Linked DNA regions of Homo sapiens: region 2 is linked to region 1. Evidence: fine-mapped expression QTL. A gene starts in region 1. The other region holds a variant in brackets. All regions are shown on one strand. Distances are between the middles of the regions.

Region 1 (5,361 bases):
ACCAGGGTCTCAGGAGGGCCTGAGACAACCTGCGGTCAGGAACCTCGGGGCGCTCTCCAGGGCAGGCTTCTGCATGCTCAGCTCTGACAGCCTGGAGACTCGCTCTCCTGCACCTGCATCCTTGAGATGCCAAGGTTTCCCTGCTAACCACGTGAGGATGCTTGGGGTACTCCAGGGACTGACAAGAGTGAGTGGTGTCAACCTAAAGAGAAACTCAGGCTCTCCAGAATAAATGAATTTAATCAAGAATAACACATAATTGCAATGCAGAGTATGCAAGCCTCAGTGGGTCACAGGCATGTGGTGGGGGGGTGGGGTGGGGATTGAGGAAAGGGGGAATTTTTTTTTTTTGAGACTGGATCTCACTCTGTTGCCCAGGCTGGAGTGCAGTGGTGCAATCATGGCTCACTGCAGCCTCGACCTCCTGGGGCTTAGGTGGTCTTCCCACCTCAGCCTCCAGAGTAGCTGGGACCACAGGTGCACACCACCACACTGGACTCATTTTTTTATTTTTTGTAGAGACAGGGGTTTCACCATGTTGCCCAGGTTGGACTCCTGAGCTCAGGGGATCTGCCCACCTTGGCCTCCAAAAGTGCTGGGATTACTACAGGCATGAGTCACTGTGCCCCGCCCACGGGAAATTTCTTTTTTTTTTTTTTTTTTTTTTTTGAGACAGAGTCTTGCTCTGTTGCCCAGGCTGGAGTGCAGTGGTGCCATCTCGGCTCACTGCAACCTCCACCTCCTGGGTTCAAGGAATTCTCCTGCCTAAGCCTCCCGTGTAGCTGGGACTACAGGTGCCTGCCACCAACCATGCCCTGCTAATTTTTTTGTGTTTTTTGTAGAGACGGGTGTCTCACCATGTTGGCCAGGCTAGTCTTGAACTCCTGACCTCAAGTGATCCACCTGCCTCGGCCTCCCAAAGTCCTGGGATTACAGAAGCCACCGCGCCTGGCCCCAAGGGGAATCTTTTAAAAAAGAGAAGTTCCCATAAACTGCTTTGAAACCATAAAGACCAAAGGTTAGAAGGGTTTGCCGCAGGCGCTCCGTTGCTAATGTTTTTGTGAGGGCTTCTTCAGGGCCTCTTGTTAGAGTGTGACATAAACGACTTCATTTGGGTACCAGCAAGTGTCACAGGGGGCAGAGACCAGCAGAAACCTAAAGATGACCCCTAGAAGAGCAGGAGGCCAGGGGAACAGAGTTAGACGAGCCACGTGCTAAGCAGGACGTCGCTGCCGGGGGAGCTCTCCAGACACGCAGAAATGCCACAGTCAGGACCGTGGGACGCAGCGGATTCGCCCAAGGGCAGGAGCAGCCTGGCCAGGAGAGAATGAAGGAGGGGCCGGGCGTGAGGTTCGGCTGGGGAGAACCCAGGCAGGGAGGGCCTCGGGCGGCCACGGACGCCGCTTTGCCATTTTGGGCGTTTCTGGGGAGGACAACGCGTGCAGGAAGCGCAGTCATCTCAAGCTGACCTCCAAGGTTACCGAGTTCGAGGGCTGGGAGCCGGGTCTGAAAGCCCCGACCCGCCTATGGCGCGGGGACTGTGGGTCCAGCCGGCCGATTGGCCGCCTCGCTCGGCGCCGGTCCAGGCGCAGCGCTCGGGCCCCGGGGACCGTGAGATGCGGCGCAGCCAGCTTAGCTCGGGGTAGCAGCCACCCCAGCCCGGGTGCCGCCCGGCCTGGTCCGCGACTTCGGGAGGGTCCGGTCCTTCCCCCGGCCCCCACGCCTGGGTGAGGCCCTGGGCTTCTTGCCGGTGACCACGCGGCCAGGGTGGGCACCAGCCCAGGACGGCGCCCAAGGGCAGCCCAGCTCCATCCCCGCGCCGCGGGTTCCGGAACCGAGGCGCGGGACGCTGGGACTCTCTGCCAACATGGCGGCCCCGCCCGGGCGCCTCCCCGGGTCCCTAGTGTCTGCGTCTCCCGTGAGGGCGTGGGCAAAGTCGGTGCAGCCAGACGACAGGAGGCGAGAGAAGCCCAGCTCCAGGCCCATGAGGCGAACCACGTGGGAGCCCCAGACAGCGACCACGCCCCAGGCGAACCAAGGCCCGCCCCGTTGCTACAGCTACGCTCGTAGCACACCTGGGCAGGCGCTGCCGGACGCATGCGCAATGAACCTGAGGGCAGGGCGGAGTCGCAGCAGTTGTCTGACGCAGTCGCCGTAGGACGCAGCCCCGTACGCTGGAGCGCAGCGGAGACAGGCGCGGGCGCACTGGCCGCATAGAGACGCAGCGCACGCGCAGTCGCGTATCCGTGTGATGGGCGGGCTGTTGACGGCGCTGCGATGGCTGCCTGCGAGGGCAGGAGAAGCGGAGCTCTCGGTTCCTCTCAGTCGGACTTCCTGACGCCGCCAGTGGGCGGGGCCCCTTGGGCCGTCGCCACCACTGTAGTCATGTACCCACCGCCGCCGCCGCCGCCTCATCGGGACTTCATCTCGGTGACGCTGAGCTTTGGCGAGAACTATGACAACAGCAAGAGTTGGCGGCGGCGCTCGTGCTGGAGGGTGAGGGTCGCGCCGGGCTGACTGGGGCCCGGGGCTGCCGTGCCCGCCGCCCTCCCAGACTGCGGCTCCGAGCGGGACCTGGGCGGGCGGACTCGACTCCCCAGGCGCCGCCCTCTCCACCCCTTCCCCGCAAAAAGGGGCAAATGTGCGTTCCTGGTTGGGGCAGCCGTGGGCGGCTCGCCTGCAGCGGTCTCAGCGGCCCAAATTCTGCGGGGCGGTGGTGGGAAGAGGGCTCAGAGCCCCAGCAGGTTTTCTGGGCTTCGTTCGCTTTTCTGCAAGGTCCTGGCCCAGGCGCCTGCCCCTCTTGGAGCGGAAACCGGAGGTTCCCCGTGGTGTATGCTCCCCTCGGTACAGTGAGAAATGAGCCCCTCTTGATTGGCTCCTGGTCTGTTCGTGGTGGTCTCAGGCCGAAGGGCATTGATAACCACATGCGGACTGTGCATCGCCTGGGCGGTGCCTGGGCTACATCTGTGGGAGTCGCAGGAGTCTTTCTCCACTGTTGATGAAATGTGACAGAAATGTTTCTGCTTTTTTCTTATCCTCGTCTCATCTGCACCACTGTATTAACGACATCTGTAGTATTGTCCCAGCAATGTTCCTACTCCCTGCTGAGAGGGAACTTCTCCCCATTCAAAATAAATAGAGCTGGCCGGGCACGGTGGCTCATCCCGCGTTCCACCCACTACACTCCAGCCTAGGTGTAACAGAATGAGACCCTGTTTCCAAAAAAAAAAAGAAATAGAGCTGAACACTGGATCTTCCAGAAGAATTCCTTATTGTCCTCACAGTTTGTGACAGTTGAGACGTTCCGTGTGATATATTCAGTAAGAAATGTCATTCTCTGTACCTCCCTTAGAAATGGAAGCAACTGTCGAGATTGCAGCGGAATATGATTCTCTTCCTCCTTGCCTTTCTGCTTTTCTGTGGACTCCTCTTCTACATCAACTTGGCTGACCATTGGAAAGGTATCAGAAACACGTGTACTTGAAAACGATATCTGTGTTGAGGGTTGATTGGGCAGAAGCAATCTTGCATTCTACCTTAAACAGCTCCAGGAGGCATATATGGCAACGAATTGGCAAGAAATCAAGATAAAGAGAAAGGTAGAGCTGTATGTAACCACCTGGCTAGAACACAGATGTTAATTTGATGCTGTCTGACTACTTTCTAGGTCTCTGGTGTAAGTACTGATATGTCCAGCCTCCCTTATAGAGTAAGTCAGCTGGTGGGCTTGAACACTCAGCCTAAATAACCACACAAATTTCGTAGCACTCATTAGCGTGTGTTTGGAAAAGACCAGGCAGAGTTCTGGTGAGGATGTGGAGAATCTCTTCTCACTTGGTCTAAGATGCTTCTCTTTGGAGCAAAGCTAAAGGGCTCCTGCCCACCTGCCACATGCTGAACGTCCCTGAATGGAAAATAGGAAGGCAAAAGATGTGGGGTTCTGTGTTATGGACAAGGACACAAACTGCCAAGTGTTTTGAAAAAGATTTCATTCCCTTGGGACATTGTTGAATTCATTTCAGTGACTATCAGGTATCATAATGTTGATTTGTAATGGATAGTGCCTGCCAAGTGTTTTTATAAAGCAGTTTAAATCTCTTGTAGGCCTTGTGGCATATTTGAAATAAAATAGCTTCTGTTATTCAGCTCTGGCTTTCAGGCTAGAGGAAGAGCAGAAGATGAGGCCAGAAATTGCTGGGTTAAAACCAGCAAATCCACCCGTCTTACCAGCTCCTCAGAAGGCGGACACCGACCCTGAGAACTTACCTGAGATTTCGTCACAGGTACTTTGAGCAAATGGTGTGGGGTTATAACTGGGGTTCAATCCAGAGGCATTTCAAACCACTGAAGATTGAGAAGAATTATTTTCCTTTACCATTTATTACCACGTGTTTACCTCTCTCTCGTTTTGGACTGGTCGGATAATACTTGGGGAAAGAGAGGCGTAGTCTTTGCTTCATTCTTTTTGAAGACCAGCCATGGCCAGTTCCGGTTTTACTTCTGACTGTGCAGTGTTGAATAAGACAGACCTGTTTCCTCTCAAGAGGCCACAGCTGGTAGGAGAGGCTGGTGAGAAGCCAGGCACAGATGGGCAGAGGCAGATGGCACATGGTGTACATCCTATGTGGAAAAGAGCAGGGCGCTGGTGAAGAACAGTGGCTGGTCCTGAGGGTTCAGGGGAGGCCGTGGCACTGAGGGCAAGATCTGAGGGCTGAGAAGCTGCTGGCACCGGGCAAGGTGGGGAGAGGCAGACTTGAGCCTGAGTGAAACTGCCTGAGGCAAGGAGGACCTTGGCATATGCGGGAAGGTGAAATTCCCAGGGCTGGGAGAGGGAGCAGGGGTTGGCTCAGTCCAGCTGTGGTCCTGCAGGTCCTGGAGGCAGCATGGAGGGTCCAGTTGATGTATGCGGGAAGATTTTGGCGTGGACTGGAGGTCTGAGATGTTTACTGTGAAACTGCTCTGGCTGGGTGGAGACACAGTGGAGGGCAGGAGGCCAGGAGAGCTGCCTGGCCGTGGGAAAAGCTGAGTGGGGGGAGGAGTGCTCCGCAGGAGTGGGCCTTGGGAGAAGGAGGGTGAGTCCCCGGGTGGAGGGGCCAGCAAAGGCTGTGCAGGCTCTGGCTTGGGGACACTGAGGAGCTCCGTTTTGGATCTGCCCACTGTGAGATGTCTGGGAGGCGCCATGGAGACCTTGGTGGGCAGGTGGTGCCAGGATCAGAGTCTGCCAGGGGAGACAGGTTTTAGGAGTCCCTAGGTATAGGTGGTTTGTGTCCTCTGGAAACGTTGGAAGAAGGGGCCAGGCCTAGTCCTGGGCACCACCAGGCTGAGAAGATTGGGGTCAGGGAGGAGGGCAGGGGGAGTGGA
Region 2 (5,361 bases), 50 kb after region 1:
AATACAAAAATTAGCCGGGCGTGATGGCGGGCACCTGTAATTCCAGCTACTCAGGAGGCTAAGGCAGGAGAATCACTCGAACCCGGGAGGTGGAGGTTGCAGTGAGCCAAGATTGCACCACTGCACTCCAGCTTGGGTGACAGGGTGAGATCCTGTCTAAAAAAAAAAAAAAAAATCCAGTCAGGAACAGGAATGCTAAGGAATCAAGAGCAGCAACAACAAGCTAGCAGAAGTAACAACTAACGAACAAGTTCATAAAGATCACAGGGAGGACCAGAAGACCTGCATTCACTGTCAATTTTATTTATACTTATTAACAATAAATGGTCTGAAAATAAAATTAAGAAGACAGCTTCATTCACAATTGCATAGAAAAATAAAATACTTTAGATTAAAATTAAGAAAATAAATGCAAACCTTGTACATTAAAATCTACAAAACATTGCTGAGAGAAAGCAAAGACAGCCTAAAAAAATGGGGAGTGATCCTATGTTCACAGATTAGAAGATTCAATATTGTGGCCGCGTGTGGTGACTCATGCCTGAAATCCCAGCACTTTGGGAGGCCGGGGGCGGGGGGGGGGGTGGATTATGAGGTCAGGAGTTCGAGACCAGCCTGGCCAAGAGACCAGCCTGGCCAATATGGTGAAACCCTGTCTCCACTAAAAATACAAAAATTAGCCGGGCATGATGGTGGGCGCCTATAGTCCCAGCTACTCGGGAGGCTGAGGAAGGAGAATGGCGTGAACCCAGGAAGCAGAGCTTGCAGTGAGCCGAGATTGCAGCACTGCACTCCAGCCTGGGCAACAGAGTGAGACTCTGTCTCAAAAAAAAATATATATATATATATATTATTTTTATTTTTAGTAGAGACAGGGTCTTACCATGTTGGTCAGGCTGGTCTCGAACTCCTGACCTCAGGTGATCCTCCCATCTCGGCCTCCCAAAGTGCTGGGATGACAGGTGGGAGCCGCCGCGCCCGGCTGGGAGGTGTTCTTTCTAGACCTCACCTGGGAGTCACGCACCATTACCTCTACCACGTTCCATTTGTAAGTGCAGGCCATGTATGCCTGGAGGGAAATCAATCTTCTGCCGAACAGGGTGGTGTTCAAAGCACCACCGGCTCCACCACACTCTGCCTTTTATTCTGCATTCTGTTTCTTGAGACCACGCGCCGCTACGTGGAATGGTCTCAGGAGCTCATGTGTTTGTGCTCCATGAAGTCAGAAAGTCCAGCCTTTGCACTGCCACATACCCACCCTTAGAACAGCGTCTGGTACACGGTAGGTGCTCAGTGAATGTGCCTAGTGGAGTAAACGTGCGGTGCGGTGCTGCCTGCGGTCGGATCTGTGGGGATCCTGTGATGGGGAAGACGGCTACCAGGAAAGGTGGAATTTGGAAAGTCAGGACAGGGAGAGAGGAGGGACTTTGTGGAGGCAGGAAGGTATGGGAGCCAGTCCAGCACAAGGGCTGGCGGGAAAGCCTCGTGGGTGTCAGAGACTATACCTCTGTGAGGGTCCCTGGGCTCCCCCAGGTCAGGGCAGAGGTCCTGACCCCAGTCTAGCTCTTTAGCGGGGGCCAGGCCCGAGATGGCCAGCTCCGTTTCCCCTGCGTGGCCTGGCAGCCCCTCCAGGAGCTGGCACGGGAAGCAGGCCTGTCCTCCACGCCCTTGGCCGGCCTTGGCTGCGATGGGTGGAGACGCTTCTGCCCGCCCCACCCCTGTCTGTCTGCCTCCTCCTCTCAAGCAGGCTTCCTCTCGACAGAAATGTGTCTGCAGGTGGCTCTTGAGCCCCAGTTCTCAGGGATTCACCTGCAGAGGATGTAGAGCCGGGGTCCCTTCCCTGCTTCTGATCTGCCCAAAATCCTAGGGAGAGCCCTGATTGGCAACCCCTCGGCCAATGGACTGAGGCCAGGGCGCGTCTGCACCCGGGTTGACAGCCCTGACTAGAACCGCGAGGCTGGGGTCAGGGAGGAGCAGCCGCCTCCCGCCGGGGCCGCAGCTGTCAGAGTGGGCAAGGGGATCTCCACAGAGGGAGACTGTCCCACAGTGGCCCGGGGTAGAACAGCGCTTCCCTCCCCACCCAGCGCCTGACTGCTGGCCCCGGGCCCATCCCAGGGCAGTGCCCCAGGTCTCTGGTCCTCCCCACAGCCTTTGTCTCACCAGGTCTCAGAGGGGTCCGAGTCCAGGCTCATCTGTTGTGGTACCACTGCCCCCTCCCTCATGGTTGTGGAAGAAGCCCACGGGGGGAAAATGCAGAGCAGAATCCAGGAAAGACTCGCTCACAGGAGGAGCTGTGGCCTGGAGACGCGGCCTCCACCCCATCTCCATCATGGACAACCTGCCAAGGGGTCTTGAACAGAAGCTTGGGGACGCACATACGGTCCGGTGGGGCAGTGACCCACTGGCAGACCAGCTCCCTGAGTAGAAAAGAAAAAGCCCTGGTTTGTGGGGTTTGATGATTCCGTGGCAGCAGAGATAATCCCACTGTGGCCAATTTCGAAGCCTGACTGTAACAGCTGCTGGCAGGTGTCTGAACATTTAGCGATCAGCTCTCCAGGGTCAGCGGGAGTCGCTCCAGCACCCCACGGGGTGGGGGTGGGTGGGTGGAGCCAGGGCCTCTGCTGCAGCCTCCAACCCCTTTCTTCCACGCTGATGAGGCGCTGTCTGGGCTCAGG[T/C]CTACCCCCACGCAGCTGCCAGGCTCTGGCCTGCCTGAGGCGGATACTTTTTTTTTTCTTTTTTTTGATGGAGTGTTGCTCTGTCGCCCGGGCTGGAGTGCAATGGTGCGATCTTGGCTCACTGCAACATCCGCCTCCCAGATTCAAGCGATTCTCCTGCCTCAGTCTCCCAAGTAGCTGGGATTACAAATGCCTGCCGCCACGCCCGGCTAATTTTTGTATTTTTAGTAGAGACAGGGTTTCACCATGTTGGCCAGGCTGGTCTCGAACTCCTGACCTTAGGTGATCCACCTGCCCTTGCCTCCCAAAGTATTGAGATTACAGGCATGAGCCACTGTGCCCTGCCGAGGTGGAAGTTTGGAGATGGGCCACAAACTCCTGGAGATAGGGCCAGCTCAGTCCCCCTGAGCACCCACACACACCCTCCTGAGAGCCAACAGAAGGAGTGAGGGCCCCGAGGCGGATGACCCGTGTGCCTCAACCCGAACGGGGAGAGGCGGGGTCTGCAGCAGGGTACGGGCAGGTGATCCCCCAAGGAAAGATTTTCCTGTATTGAGAGAGAAGGGGCCAAGAGGAGGAGCTTGTCAAACACCACAGCCCCTCCCCCTCCTCTCAGCTCCAGGGGGTCCCTGGTGCCAGTGTTCGGCTGATGGAGAGAACGGCAAGCGGGAGAGAGAGTGTGACCCCTGTGGGCACATGACTTCCCTTGCTGCACTGCTGCACATAGCAGAGGTGTGGTGACGACCCTGTTTTGTCCCATTGGGGGCGTTTGCTGTTAGGTCTGCAGAATCCTCAGTTGCTATTGGAAATGGTGACATCACTGGCAGGGGCGGAGCTTCAGCCATCCTTCAAGTTAGGGAGGGGCACGCACACTCCAGGGGTGGAGGGGGACAAAGACAGGGTGGTGTGGACCAGAGGGATGGGTAAGGCTCTGGAAAAGGGGGCGCTGGGAGCGCATTGCGAGGGGGCTGGAGAGGGAGAGAGGAGCGGAAGCTGAGGGTGTGAAACGGCTGGCCCCGAACACACCTCGCGGCGCTCCAGTGATTCCTGGTGTCCGACCTCAGCCCCAGTCAGTGCGGGTCCAGTTTCCAGGCTCTCGCGGAAGGCCTGGCTGAGCACATGCGGCAGCCACGGTCACCCTCCCTATTCCTCTTAGCCCGAGGAGGGGGGTCCCAAGTTACATGGCCACGCAGATGGGGCCTCTCCCTCATTTCTGAACCTTGTGGGGAGGGGAACCTTGAAGGGAGCGCCCCCCAGAGCCATGGCTTAGGGCCTCCCCCACCCCTCTGGAGCTCCAGTCTGCAAGAGTCAGGAGCCGAAATATCGCTGACTGTGGGTGACGACTCTTGCGCGCACACACACATACAAGCGGGCACGACGCGTTCGGTCCTATTAAAAGGCACGCAAGGGTGCGGGCTGCACGCGGTGACACGGACCCCTCTAACGTTTCCAAACTGAGCTCCCTGCAGGTCCCCGACAGCACAGGCCCCTGTCCCAGGACCCCTCCAGGCACGCGCTCACACGCACACGCGCGCTCCCCGGCTCACGCGCGCTCCGACACACACGCTCACGCGAACGCAGGCGCACGCTCTGGCGCGGGAGGCGCCCCCTTCGCCTCCGTGTTGGGAAGCGGGGGCGGCGGGAGGGGCAGGAGACGTTGGCCCCGCTCGCGTTTCTGCAGCTGCTGCAGTCGCCGCAGCGTCCGGACCGGAACCAGCGCCGTCCGCGGAGCCGCCGCCGCCGCCGCCGGGCCCTTTCCAAGCCGGGCGCTCGGAGCTGTGCCCGGCCCCGCTTCAGCACCGCGGACAGCGCCGGCCGCGTGGGGCTGAGCCCCGAGCCCCCGCGCACGCTTCAGCGCCCCTTCCCTCGGCCGACGTCCCGGGACCGCCGCTCCGGGGGAGACGTGGCGTCCGCAGCCCGCGGGGCCGGGCGAGCGCAGGACGGCCCGGAAGCCCCGCGGGGGATGCGCCGAGGGCCCCGCGTTCGCGCCGCGCAGAGCCAGGCCCGCGGCCCGAGCCCATGAGCACCATGCGCCTGCTGACGCTCGCCCTGCTGTTCTCCTGCTCCGTCGCCCGTGCCGCGTGCGACCCCAAGATCGTCAACATTGGCGCGGTGCTGAGCACGCGGAAGCACGAGCAGATGTTCCGCGAGGCCGTGAACCAGGCCAACAAGCGGCACGGCTCCTGGAAGATTCAGCTCAATGCCACCTCCGTCACGCACAAGCCCAACGCCATCCAGATGGCTCTGTCGGTGTGCGAGGACCTCATCTCCAGCCAGGTGCCCTCCCCCACCTCCGCCACCCACCTCCCCTCTCCTCCATCCTGCAACCCCACACCCCCAGTTTCATTCCATCCTTTCCGTGCCCCCTTCCTCCCTGTAAGACACCACCCCAGAGTCAGCTGGCTGCTTCCGGGAGGCCTCGTCTCACTAGGAACCAAACACCAGGGTCTGCTGGCTCCCCTATCTTGGCCTGAGACCAGTCACCTGCCACCTTGGCTGGTCCTCAGAGGGCCCCTGGGGCTCCAGGCCCTGACTGGTGTGTGTAGACGTGGGGCTGGAGTGTGTCAGTGTGGGGGTGGGCATTCCGGGTAAGAGAGTAGAAGCGCCTGTCCAGCTACATGCCCGCCCTGCAGAGCTTTAAACAGGACGGGGCCTGGGGCCATCTTTGTTTCTGCTTCCAGGTTCT

Evidence for each region.
Region 2: its variant is fine-mapped to the expression of MAN1B1 in spleen (GTEx, PIP above 0.99).

The regions. Positions count from the first base shown.
Region 1 is chr9:137,084,723-137,090,083 of GRCh38, forward strand. It overlaps MAN1B1 (mannosidase alpha class 1B member 1), which reads left to right and starts at 2,263. Exons shown (of 13, transcript NM_016219.5): 1 at 2,263-2,496; 2 at 3,353-3,461; 3 at 4,147-4,283. The coding sequence starts at 2,278. MAN1B1-DT (MAN1B1 divergent transcript) reads right to left here and starts at 2,095. Exons shown (of 1, transcript NR_027447.1): 1 at 224-2,095. RefSeq lists silencers at 1,617-1,846, 2,397-2,626 and an enhancer at 2,187-2,416.
Region 2 is chr9:137,134,793-137,140,153 of GRCh38, forward strand. It overlaps GRIN1 (glutamate ionotropic receptor NMDA type subunit 1), which reads left to right and starts at 4,362. Exons shown (of 20, transcript NM_007327.4): 1 at 4,362-4,952. The coding sequence starts at 4,695. RefSeq lists a silencer at 3,905-4,199. The variant T/C (reference allele first, on the strand shown) is at 2,676.